Homo sapiens: one gene and its partners. The protein of the gene in region 1 purifies or fractionates together with the protein of each later gene. This does not show direct contact. Each region holds a gene or a part of one and is shown in the gene's direction. Other genes may lie near its edges.

Region 1 (3,500 bases):
CTTTGACTTAACGTGTTTTCAAGGTTCGCCCGGGTTCTAATAGATCAGTAGCACTTCATTGCACGTTCAAGTCCTTGAACATACTAGGTATCTGCTTTAAAGTCCTTTTGTGCTAATTCTAACATCTGGAATTTTTCTGAATGTGAAGGGGGATAAACAGTGAAGTTTGACACCCTCCACACTGCTCAGAAGAAAGCTCCGAGTGGATCTGAGATTCAAATGTGAAAGGCCCAATTATGAATCTCTCAGGAGATGCTAGAGATAAGAGAATAGCCTTCAGAATAGGAAGGGATTTCTCAAACAGGACACAGAAAGCTTAAGCCTTGATGGAAGAGGCAGATCAATTCAATTAGATTAAAATGAAGAACCTTGGGGCAGAGTTTGGGTTTTGTAAAATGAAAAGAGTTCTGGAGTTAAGCATCGTGAACATGCTTAACACTACTGAACTGTACACTCATTTTATAATAAAACTATTAAATTGTAAAAGGTGAGAACCTCCTCTTCATCAAAGAACATAAATAGACTGAAAGACAATGCTGGGGATGAAAAATCATTGACCATTATTCTTCAAAGTGAGTGGAAGGCAATGTCCCTGCAGGGTTTGAGCGGAAGAGTGGGCATGGCCTGGCGGGCCCTATGCCAGCCAGTTTTGCTGCTCTGTTGAGAGCAGCCTGTGGGACAGAGAGGTCGGGTAGTAGCAGAGAGCTAAGTGGCGAGAAGTGGTCAGATTCTGGACACACACTGCAGGCAGACCCAGGACTTGGCCGGTGGAGTCCTCACAACATGGCAAGGAAGTAACTGCGGTCAGGAATCCAGGGCGCTCAGGAGCTTAGCCTGGAGCTGTGGAGTTAAAATCCCTGTCAGACGCGCAGGCCGGTAGACAGGTGGCTGCAGGTGGAAATGTGGGGTTTGTAAGCGTGTATAAGAAGTGGGTTTAAGGTCATGATACTGGGAGCACTCTTCTAAAGAGCAAGTGTAGACAGAGGAGAAGCCCCAGGCAGAGTGGGAGGAAGAAGGCAAACCAGGCGCTGGGGAAGAAATGCACTGGGGAGGAAGCCTGACGAGGGTGGCGTCCTGGAGGCCCCAGAGCACAGCCCATCAGAGAGGATGCCCTGCTGGCCTGGCTGGGTTCAGCTGATCGCAGCCGCCTGGCTCTTGCATCTGCACTTGGCCATAGGGCGGCCAGGCGGCTCTGCTGGCCCTGACTGGGCTCACACACGCGTGTGCCTGGGGTCCGCAGCCGGAGACTGATTGAGAATGGTCTTGGAGGCAGCTGCGGCACCTCAGCTTTGCTTTCTGTGTCTGAGCCCAGCACGCCAGCCTGGGCACGGCGTTCTCGCGACAGCAGCAGAGGGCAACAGCAAGACAAGCCCAGGCGCATGAGTTCATTTCAGCCTGCCCTGCCACGTGTCTGCCACTGTCCCATTGGCCAAAGCAAGCCACAGTCACCCAGATTCAAGGGATGGAGAGGGACCTGCCACCTCTGTGCTGGGGAGGGAGGAATTGGAGCCTTAGAGCAGGTCATGTCCCTCCACGGGGGAGGGGGAAGCAACTGCACCCCATGTGCCGGTGGGCCACATTCTGGTGAGAAGGCGCCCCAGCTTTAGGGACACGAAGGTTGCCAGTGGCCTGGAGAGACCAGAACCCAGGCCTGCCGGGAGCAGCTAAAGCGGGACAGGAGTGGGCTGGGCTGGGGCTGCAAGCGCTCTAGTATCTTGAGGGCTGCCGCAGGTGGCCAGAAACTGACAGCCACTGGTGAGAGTGAGAGAGGAACCAGGGAGAAGCAGGGCTGTGTCTGGTGGAGATACTGGTCCACCAGAGAATGGGAGAGCGGCTGGAGCAGTGTCCCTGGGAAGCGTTGTTTGTTTTTGAGATGGAGTCTCACCCTGTTGCCCGGGCTGGAGTGCACTGATGTGATCTCGGCTCACTGCAACCTCCGCCTCTCACGTTCAAGCAATTCTCCTGCCTCAGCCTCCTGAGTAGCTGGGATTAGCTGTTGGGGACACGAGATGCGCCACCACACCCAGCTAATTTTGTGTTTTTAGTAGAGACGGGGTTTCACCAAGCTGGCCAGGCTGGTCTCAAAATCCTGACCTCAGGTGATCCACCCACCTCTGCCTCCCAAAGTGTTGGGATTACAGGCGTGAGCCACCGCGCCCAGCCTCGTGAGTGTTGTTTAAATAGAAGGGAAGGAACCAGGAACAACTCGAATGTCCAGAAGACTCAGGGAACCAGCGATCCCGCGTTTATATCCAACAGGAGGACGAGATGAGCTCCCTGTCCCCATGCAGACGGTCCCACAGCTGGTCGTAAAGGAAAGAAGCTGGCTGCCCAGGCAGTCAGGCCTGCATAAGCCCCACATTCTGCAGGGCAAGTGCATGTGGCGTGGCTCAGGAAGAGCAGGGATGAAGAGAGTGGGAACCCCACGAGGAACCGTGGGCAGCAGGCTGGCGGGGAGCCCGCGGTGCCTGGCGCGTTCTGTCTTCTGGCCTGGAACGTAATCACGCGGGCGCTCTGCTTCTCACCCTTGCATTTGCGTGCACGCTCTGCTGTGCTCAGAGTCACTGACACCAAGGGCCCTGTGTGGCTGGGTGGGGATGCGAGATGCAGGCTTGCCTGGTGACAGGACTTCTTGCTTCCTGAGTTGTACCCTGCACAGACTGCAGAGGCTATCATAACATATCCGAAGGGAGGTGCCCAGGTGAGGGAGCCGTTCTTCTGCGGCTCTTGCTGGAGCGGCCGCCCTCGTTTTCAGCTTACACAGCGAGTCCTTTTGGGTCTCAGGTAGCGTGCCAGGTCCGTCTCGCCTGATTAACACTCTGTGTGCCTCCTCTGCTGCAGGCATGGAAAGCTCACCTGATGGGCCCAGCCGGCTGCACGATGAACCTGCGCAAGACACACATTCTGCAGAAGGCCCCGGCACTGCAGCCAGGTGAGGGACAGCGCCGCTGAGCAGGTGTAGTCTGCATCCCTCCATTTTGACTTATTCAAAAAAGCATCCCCGTCCAGGGCAACATGGCAAGACCCCATCCCTTTAAAAGCAAAATAAAGCATCCAAGCCTGTCTTCATGTTCTGGTTCCTTAGTAAGCAGGCTAATAATCAGAATCGTGTGACCAAAATCCTTCTCCACCTGCAAACTGGCTGTGCAGTGCGAAGGCTCCACGGGTGGCCTAGGATTCACACTCCCGTCCTCCGCTCTTTCTACATCACTGACTCAAGTGTTTAGAATCAGGAAGCTGGCCAGGCACAGTGGCTCACGCCTATAATCCCAGCACTTTGGGGGCTAAGGCAGGCAGATCACTTGAGGTCAGGAGTTCGAGATGAGCCTGGCCAACATGGTGAAACCCTATAAAAAATTGGCCGGGCACAGTGGCCGGCACCTATAGTCCAGCTACTCAGGAGGCTGAAGCAGGAGAATTGCTTGAACCCGGGAGGTGGAGGTTGTGGTGAGCCAATATTGCGCCACTGCCCTCCAGCCTGGGTGACAGAGTGAGACTCT
Region 2 (3,500 bases), on another chromosome or scaffold:
GAACCCATATTAACATATAATTATCACCCAAGGCCCATAGTTTACATTAAGATTCACTCTTGTGTTGTACATTCTATGGGATTTTGGCAAATGTATCCATGTCTTATGTTCAGTACATTCTGTGGGGTTTTGACAAATGTATCCATGTCTTGTATCCACCATTATAGTATCATAACAATAGTTTCAGTGCCCTAAATTCTCTGTTCTCTACATGTACATTCTTCCCTCTCTCACCCCATTCCCAAGCCTTAGCAACCAGTGGTCTTTTTTTCTGTCTCCATAGTTTTGTCATTTCCAGAATGTCACATACTTGGAGTTATACAGTAGCTTGCATTTTCAGATTGGTTTCTTTCACTTAGTAATATGCATTTAAGTTTCCTTTATGTCTTTTCATGGTTTGATACCTCATTTCTTTCTTTCTTTCCTTCCTTCCTTCCTTCCTTCCTTCCTTCCTTCCTTTCTTTCTTTCTTTTCTTTCTTTTCTTTTTTTTTTTTTGTGAGACAGCCCAGGCTGGAGTGCAGTGCGATCTCGGCTCACTGCAACCTCTGCCTCCCGGGATCAAGTAATTCTCCTGCCTCAGGCTCCCAAGTAGCTGAGACTACAGGCCCACACCATCATGCCCGGCTAATTTTTTGTATTTTTAGTAGAGACGGGATTTCACCATGTTGGCCAGGCTGGTCTTGAACTCCCGGACTCAAGCGATTGCCCACCTTGGCCTCCTAAAGTGCTGGGATTACAGGTGCAAGCTACCACGCCTGGCCTATCAGATGTATCTTTTGAAAATATTTTCTCCCACTTTGTGTCTTGTCTTCTCATTCTCTTGACATTAACTTTCTCAGAGCAGAAGTTTTAAAGTTTTAATAAAGTCCAGTTAATCAGTTTTTTCTTGCATGGATCATGCCTTTGGTATCATATCTAAAAAGTCATCACCATACCCAAGGTCATCTAGGTTTTCTCCTATGTTATCTTCTAGGCATTTTATAGTTTTACAATTTACATTTAAGTCTATGATCCATTTGGAGTTAATTTTTATGAAGGGTGTCAGGTCTGTTTCTAGATTCATTTTTTTTTACATGTGCATGTTCAGTTGTTGCAGCACCATTTGTTGACAACACTGTCTTTACTCCATTGCCTTTACTTCTTTGTCAAAGATCAGCTGACTGTATTCATGTGGGTCTTTTTCTGGGCTCTTTACTCTGCTCCATTAGTGTGCCTATTTTTGCCCATAACACATTGTCTTGATTACTGTAGCTTTATAGTAAATCTTGAAGTTCCGTAGTGTCAGTCTTCTGACTTTGTTGTTTTCCTTCCATGTTGAGTTCACTCTTCTGGGTTTTTTGCCTCTCTGTATAAACTTTAGAATCAGTTTGTTGATGTCCAAAAAATAAGTTGCTGAGAGTTTGATTGGGATTGCATTGAATCTATAGATCAAGTTGAGAAAAACTAACAGCTTGACAATATTGAGTCTTCCTATCCACAAACATGGATTATCTCTTCATTTATTTAGCTCTTCTTTGATATCTTGCATTGGAGTTCTATACTTTCCTCATATAGATACTGTACATATTTTGCTAAATTTAGATTGAAATATCCTACTTCTGTATGTTAATGTAAATGGTAATTTTTTTTAAATTTCAAATTCCACTTGTTCATTGCTGGTATAGAGGAAAATGCTTGACTTTTGCACATTAACTTTGTGTCCTGCAAGCTTGCTATAATATAATCATTTATTATTCGCAGGAGGATTTTTTTTGTTAATTCTTTGAGACTTTCTATGCAGACAATCATGTCATCTGTGAACAAAGACAATTTTATTTCTTCCCAATCTGTATACTTTTTATTCCTTTTCTTGTCTTATTGCATTAGTTTGAACTTCCAATATGATATTGAAAAGCAGTGATGAGAGAGGACATCCTTGCCTTGTTTCTAATCTTAGTGGGAAAGTTTTGAGTTTCTCATAAATATGATGTTATCTGTATGCTTTCTTGTAGTGTTCGCTATAAAGTTGAGAAAGTTCCCCCTGTATTCCTAGTTTGCTGAGAGTTTTCATCATATATGGATATTAGATTTTGTCTAATGCTTTTTTGCATCTATTGATATAATTATGTGATTTTTCTTCTTAAACCTGATGATGTGATGGGTTATATTAATTGATTTTCAAATGTTGAGCCAGCCTTGCATACCTGGGATAAATTCCACTTGGTTGTGGTGTGTTATTCATTTTGTATATTGTTGGATTCAATTTACTAATATTTTGTTGAGGATTTTCACATGTTTGTTCATAGGTGATATTGGTCTGTGGGGTTTTTGTTTTGTTTTGTTTTTGTTTTTTTTCTTATAAGGTCTTTGCTGGTTTTGGTATTAGGGTAGTGCTGGCCTTTTAGAATGAGTCAGAAAGTATTCTCCCTGCTTCTATATTCTGAAGGTAATTGCAGAGAATTGGTATAATTTTTTCTTTAAATGTTCAGTGGAATCCACCAGTAAACCCATCTGACTCTGGTGCTTTCTGTTTTGGAAGGTTATTAATTATTCAGTTTCTTTACAGATACAGGCCTAGTCAGATTATCCATATCTTCTTGTGTGTGTTTTTACACATTGTGTCTTTCAAGGAATTGATCCATTTTATCTAGGTTACCCAATTTATAAGCATAGAGTTGTTAATAGTATTCCTTTATTATCCTTTTAATGTTTATGTGATTTGTAGTGATAGTCTGTCTTTCATTTCTGATATTAGTAATTTGTTTCTCTGTTTTTCTTAGCCTGACCAGAAGCTTATCAATTTTATTGATCTTTTCCAAGAACCCGAGTTTGTTTTTGTTGATTTTCTGTTGATTTCCTTTTTTCAGTTTCACTGATTTCTATGCAAATTTTTTATTTTTTATTTTTCTCCTGCTCACTTTGGATTTAATTTGCTCTTCCTTTGTTAGTTTCCTAGGATGTGCACTTAGATGATCGATTTTAGATCTTTCTTCTTTTCTAATATATGCCTTCAGTGCCATAAATTTCCTCTAGGCACCGCTTTCACTGCATACCGCAAATCTTGATACATTGTATTTTCATTTATTTCAAAATATTTAAAAATTTCACTTGAGATTTCTTTGACTTGTATGTAACTTAGAAGTGTATTTAGTCTACAAGTATGTTGGGGTTTTCCATCTGTATTCTGTTCTCACATTGCTGTAAAGAACTGAGACAAGGTAATTTATAAAGAAAAGAGACTTCATTGACTCATAGTTCCTCATGGCTGGGTAGACCTCGGAAATTTACAATTATGGCAGAAAGTGAAGAGGAAGGAGTCACGTCTTACATGGCCGGAGAAGGAGGAAGAGAGGGCAGGAGGAGATGCTACACACTTTTAAACAACCAGATCTCTTGATAACTCACTATTATGAGAACAGGAAAGGGGATATCCAACCCCATGATCCAGTCATCCCCCAGCAACCCCTCTTTCAACATTGAGGATTACAATTTGAAATGAGATTTGGGACAGGATACAAAC
Region 3 (3,500 bases), on another chromosome or scaffold:
TATCCTCCATATATAAGTGAGATCATTCAGTATCTGTCTCTGTTTGACTGGCTTATTTCATTTAACACAATGTCTTCCAGTTCATTTATGTTGTCACAAATGACAGGATTTCATTCTTTTTTAAGGCTAAATAGTATTCCATTGTGTATATATACCACTTTTTTTAATCCATTCATCCATTGATGGACACTTTTGATTCCGTATCTTGGCTATTGTGAATAATGTTGCAGTGAACTTTCAAGTACAGATGTCTCTTGAATGTACTAATTTTACATCCTTTGGATATATACCCAGAAGTGGGATTGCTGGATCATATAGTAGTTCTATTTTTAATTTTTTGTGGAACCTCTGTACTATTTTCTATAATAGCTGTACTAATTTACATTCCCACCAACAGTGTACAGAGGTTCCCTTCATCACATATATGGTTTCCAAATATAGTCTCCCATTCCATAGGTTCTCTTCACTCTATTGATGGTTTCGTTGGCTGTGCAAAAGCTTCGTAGTCTTTTAAAATAATTTTTAAAAAATAATTTAAAATCCAGATTCTACAAACTTCTTAGTGTGATGTAATCCCATTTATTTATTTTTGGTTTTGTTACCAGTGCTTTGGGGTTTATATCCAAAAAAAGTCATTGCCCAGACCAATGTCGTGCAACTTTCCCCTTATGTTTTCTTCTAGTAGTTTTACAGTTTCAGGTCTTACATTTAAATCTTGAATCCTTTTCGTGTTAAATTTTTTTATATGGTAAAGGATGAGGGTCTAATTTCATTCTGCATGTGGATATCCAGTTGTCCCAAAATGATTTATTGAGACTGTTATTCTTAACATCTGTGAAAAGTATGTTTCTGTAACTGTCTTTTCTGTGTTCTTAACATCTTTCTCAAAAATCAATTGACTTTAAATGCATGGATTTATTTCTGGGCTCTTTATTCTGTTTCCTTGGTCTATGGCTGTTTTGATTACTGTAGCTTTGTGGTAGATTTTCAAATCAGAGAGTGTGATCTCTCTGGCTTTGTTTTTTTGGCTTAATATTGCATTGCCTGTTCAGGGTCTTTTGTGGTTCAGTATGAATTTTAGGATTTTTTTTTCTATTACTGTGAAAATATTATTGGAAAATTGATAGGGATTGCATTGAGTCTGTAGATTGCTTTGAGTGGTGTCAACCTTGTAACAACATTCATGTTTCCAATCCATGAACACACGTTATCTTTCCATTTATTTGTGTCTTCTTCAATTTTTTTCATCAATGTGTTATAGTTTTCAGTGTACAGATCTTTCACCTCACTGGTTAAATTTACCCCTATGTATTTTTTTTGTAGCTATTGTAAATGAGATTTTTTTTCTTTTTTTTCAGATAGTTTACTTTTAGTGTATAGAAATGCTACTGATTTTTGTATGTTGATTTTATATCCTGCAGCTTTACCAAAGTAGTTTGTTAGTTCTAACAATTTTTTGGTGGAATTTTTTATAAGATTTTCAATATATAAGAGCATGCCATCTGCGAACAGAAACAATTTCATTTCCTTTTTTCCAATTTCAATGCCTTTTATTTTTCCCTCTTGTCTAATTACTATAGCTAGGACTTCTAGTACTATGTTGAATAGAAGGGGTAAGAGTGAATATCCTTGTCTTGTCCCTCATCTTAGAGGAAAAACTTTCAGTTTTCACCATTGCGTATGATGCTAGCTGTGGGCTTGTCATAAATGGCCTTCATTGTGTTGAGCTAGATTCTTTCTATACCTAATTTGTTGAGAGTTTTTATCATCAAAGGATGTTGAATTTTGTCAAATGCCTTTGTTCCATCTATTGAGATGATCATACGGTTTTTGTCTTTCATTCTGTTAATGTGATGTATCACCTTTACTGATTTGCATATGTTGAACCATCCTTGTATCCCAGGGATAAATCTGACTTGATCCTGGTGAATGACCTTTTTAATGCGCTGTTGTATTCAGCTTGCCAGTATTTTGTAGAGGATTTTTGCTTCTATGTTCACTGGGGATATTGACCTTTGATTTTCTTTTCTTGTAGTGGATTTGTCTGGCTTTGGAATCAGGATAATGCTGGCCTCCTAAATTGAGTTCGAAAGTTTCCCCTCCTCTTCAGTATTTTGGAAGAGTTTGAGAAGGATTTGTATTAGTTCTTCTTTAAATGTTTGGTAGAATTCAGTAGTGAAGGCATCAAGTCCTGGGGGTTTTGTTTAGTGGGAGACTTAACTACTGATTTGATCTCTCTACTTATTATTGGTCTGTTCAGATTACCTATTTCTTTATGATTTAGTCTTGATAGGTTGTATGTGTCTAGGAACTTATCCATTCTAGGTTATCCAATCTGTTGGCATATAATTGGTCATAGCAATCTCTTATGAGCCTTCATATTTCTTTTGTTTTAATTGTAAAGTCATGTTTATTGGAGTATGAACTTATATGCAGTAAAATTTACCATTAAGTATGAGATTGGACAAATGCATAATCATACCATAATCAAGATGTAGAATAGTTGTAGAACAAGATATAGAATCACTCCAAAAATTCCCTCATGCTCCTTTGCAGTCACCCCTTTTTTATCCCTAGGAATGCATTGTTCTGTTTTCTGTCAAAAGGGCCAAATTTAATCACTGCAATGGTCTCCAGTACTGTGGAAAAATTCCTGAGCATACAAAACACACAAACCAAGTTTTTAAAAAATGAGATACTTTTAAAAATGTCTTTAGCATATCAACCAAATGAAGGTAGCTTCATATTTTACTACAGATGCTCAGATATCTTAGGCAGAATTAAGTCCACCATTGCCATATATATGCCTCAACAGTAATATTTAAGAGTAGACTGTAAAAATAAACTTACAATCTTTAGAATCGTCAAAACAATGGGATTATTAAATGACCTTTGTAAGTTAAAGCAAAGTTTATAAAGTTGTCTTACATAGTTGTGAAATAGCTAGTCTAGTTAGATAGAATTAACGTCTCCTAAAACTGACCTGCTTGAAGAACTACTGTAGGTCATGTCTTTGTAGGTAGAGTATGTGAACGAAGATTAAGTACTTGCTCTTTTGTGTTAACACTGTGTCAAGTTTCAGACTGGGGCTGGTTGATAGAAAAACTAGTTAAAAAAAACTATTTTAAATAATGGAATTGAATTTTATGGAAATTCTCTGTGGCACCAACTCAACCACAGGACAGAAACAAAAAATTCTCATCTAAACATTCCTGTAGAAAATTGGGACCATCTAAAAATTCACCCCAGCTACCACCATGAAAGAAACAAAGAAAGCAAAAACTTCTGTTCTGAATATATCAGTGGTCCCATATTCAGATACTTCTTATCTACTTGAAAAGCTTTGATGGGTGGGGCACGGTGGCCCACACCTGTAATCCCAGCACTTTGGGCCCAGGTGGGCAGATCACCTGAGGCTAAGAGTTCGAGACCAGCCTGGCCAACATGGTGGAATGCTGTCTCTACTAAAAATACAAAAATTAACTGGGCGTGGTGGTGCA

The links.
Region 2: the proteins of CEP104 (region 1) and TOGARAM1 purify together in Homo sapiens (co-immunoprecipitation; one large-scale study listed by IntAct). This does not show direct contact.
Region 3: the proteins of CEP104 (region 1) and WASHC3 purify together in Homo sapiens (co-immunoprecipitation; one large-scale study listed by IntAct). This does not show direct contact.

Annotation. Positions count from the first base shown.
Region 1 is NC_000001.11:3,815,712-3,819,211, reverse strand, and holds part of CEP104 (centrosomal protein of 104 kDa), read left to right. Parts: intron 1-2,841; coding exon 2,842-2,932; intron 2,933-3,500. UniProt on the Homo sapiens protein: Required for ciliogenesis and for structural integrity at the ciliary tip.
Region 2 is NC_000014.9:44,968,690-44,972,189, forward strand, and holds part of TOGARAM1 (TOG array regulator of axonemal microtubules protein 1), read left to right. Parts: intron 1-3,500. UniProt on the Homo sapiens protein: Involved in ciliogenesis. It is required for appropriate acetylation and polyglutamylation of ciliary microtubules, and regulation of cilium length.
Region 3 is NC_000012.12:102,055,492-102,058,991, reverse strand, and holds part of WASHC3 (WASH complex subunit 3), read left to right. Parts: intron 1-3,500. UniProt on the Homo sapiens protein: Acts as a component of the WASH core complex that functions as a nucleation-promoting factor (NPF) at the surface of endosomes, where it recruits and activates the Arp2/3 complex to induce actin polymerization, playing a key role in the fission of tubules that serve as transport intermediates during endosome sorting.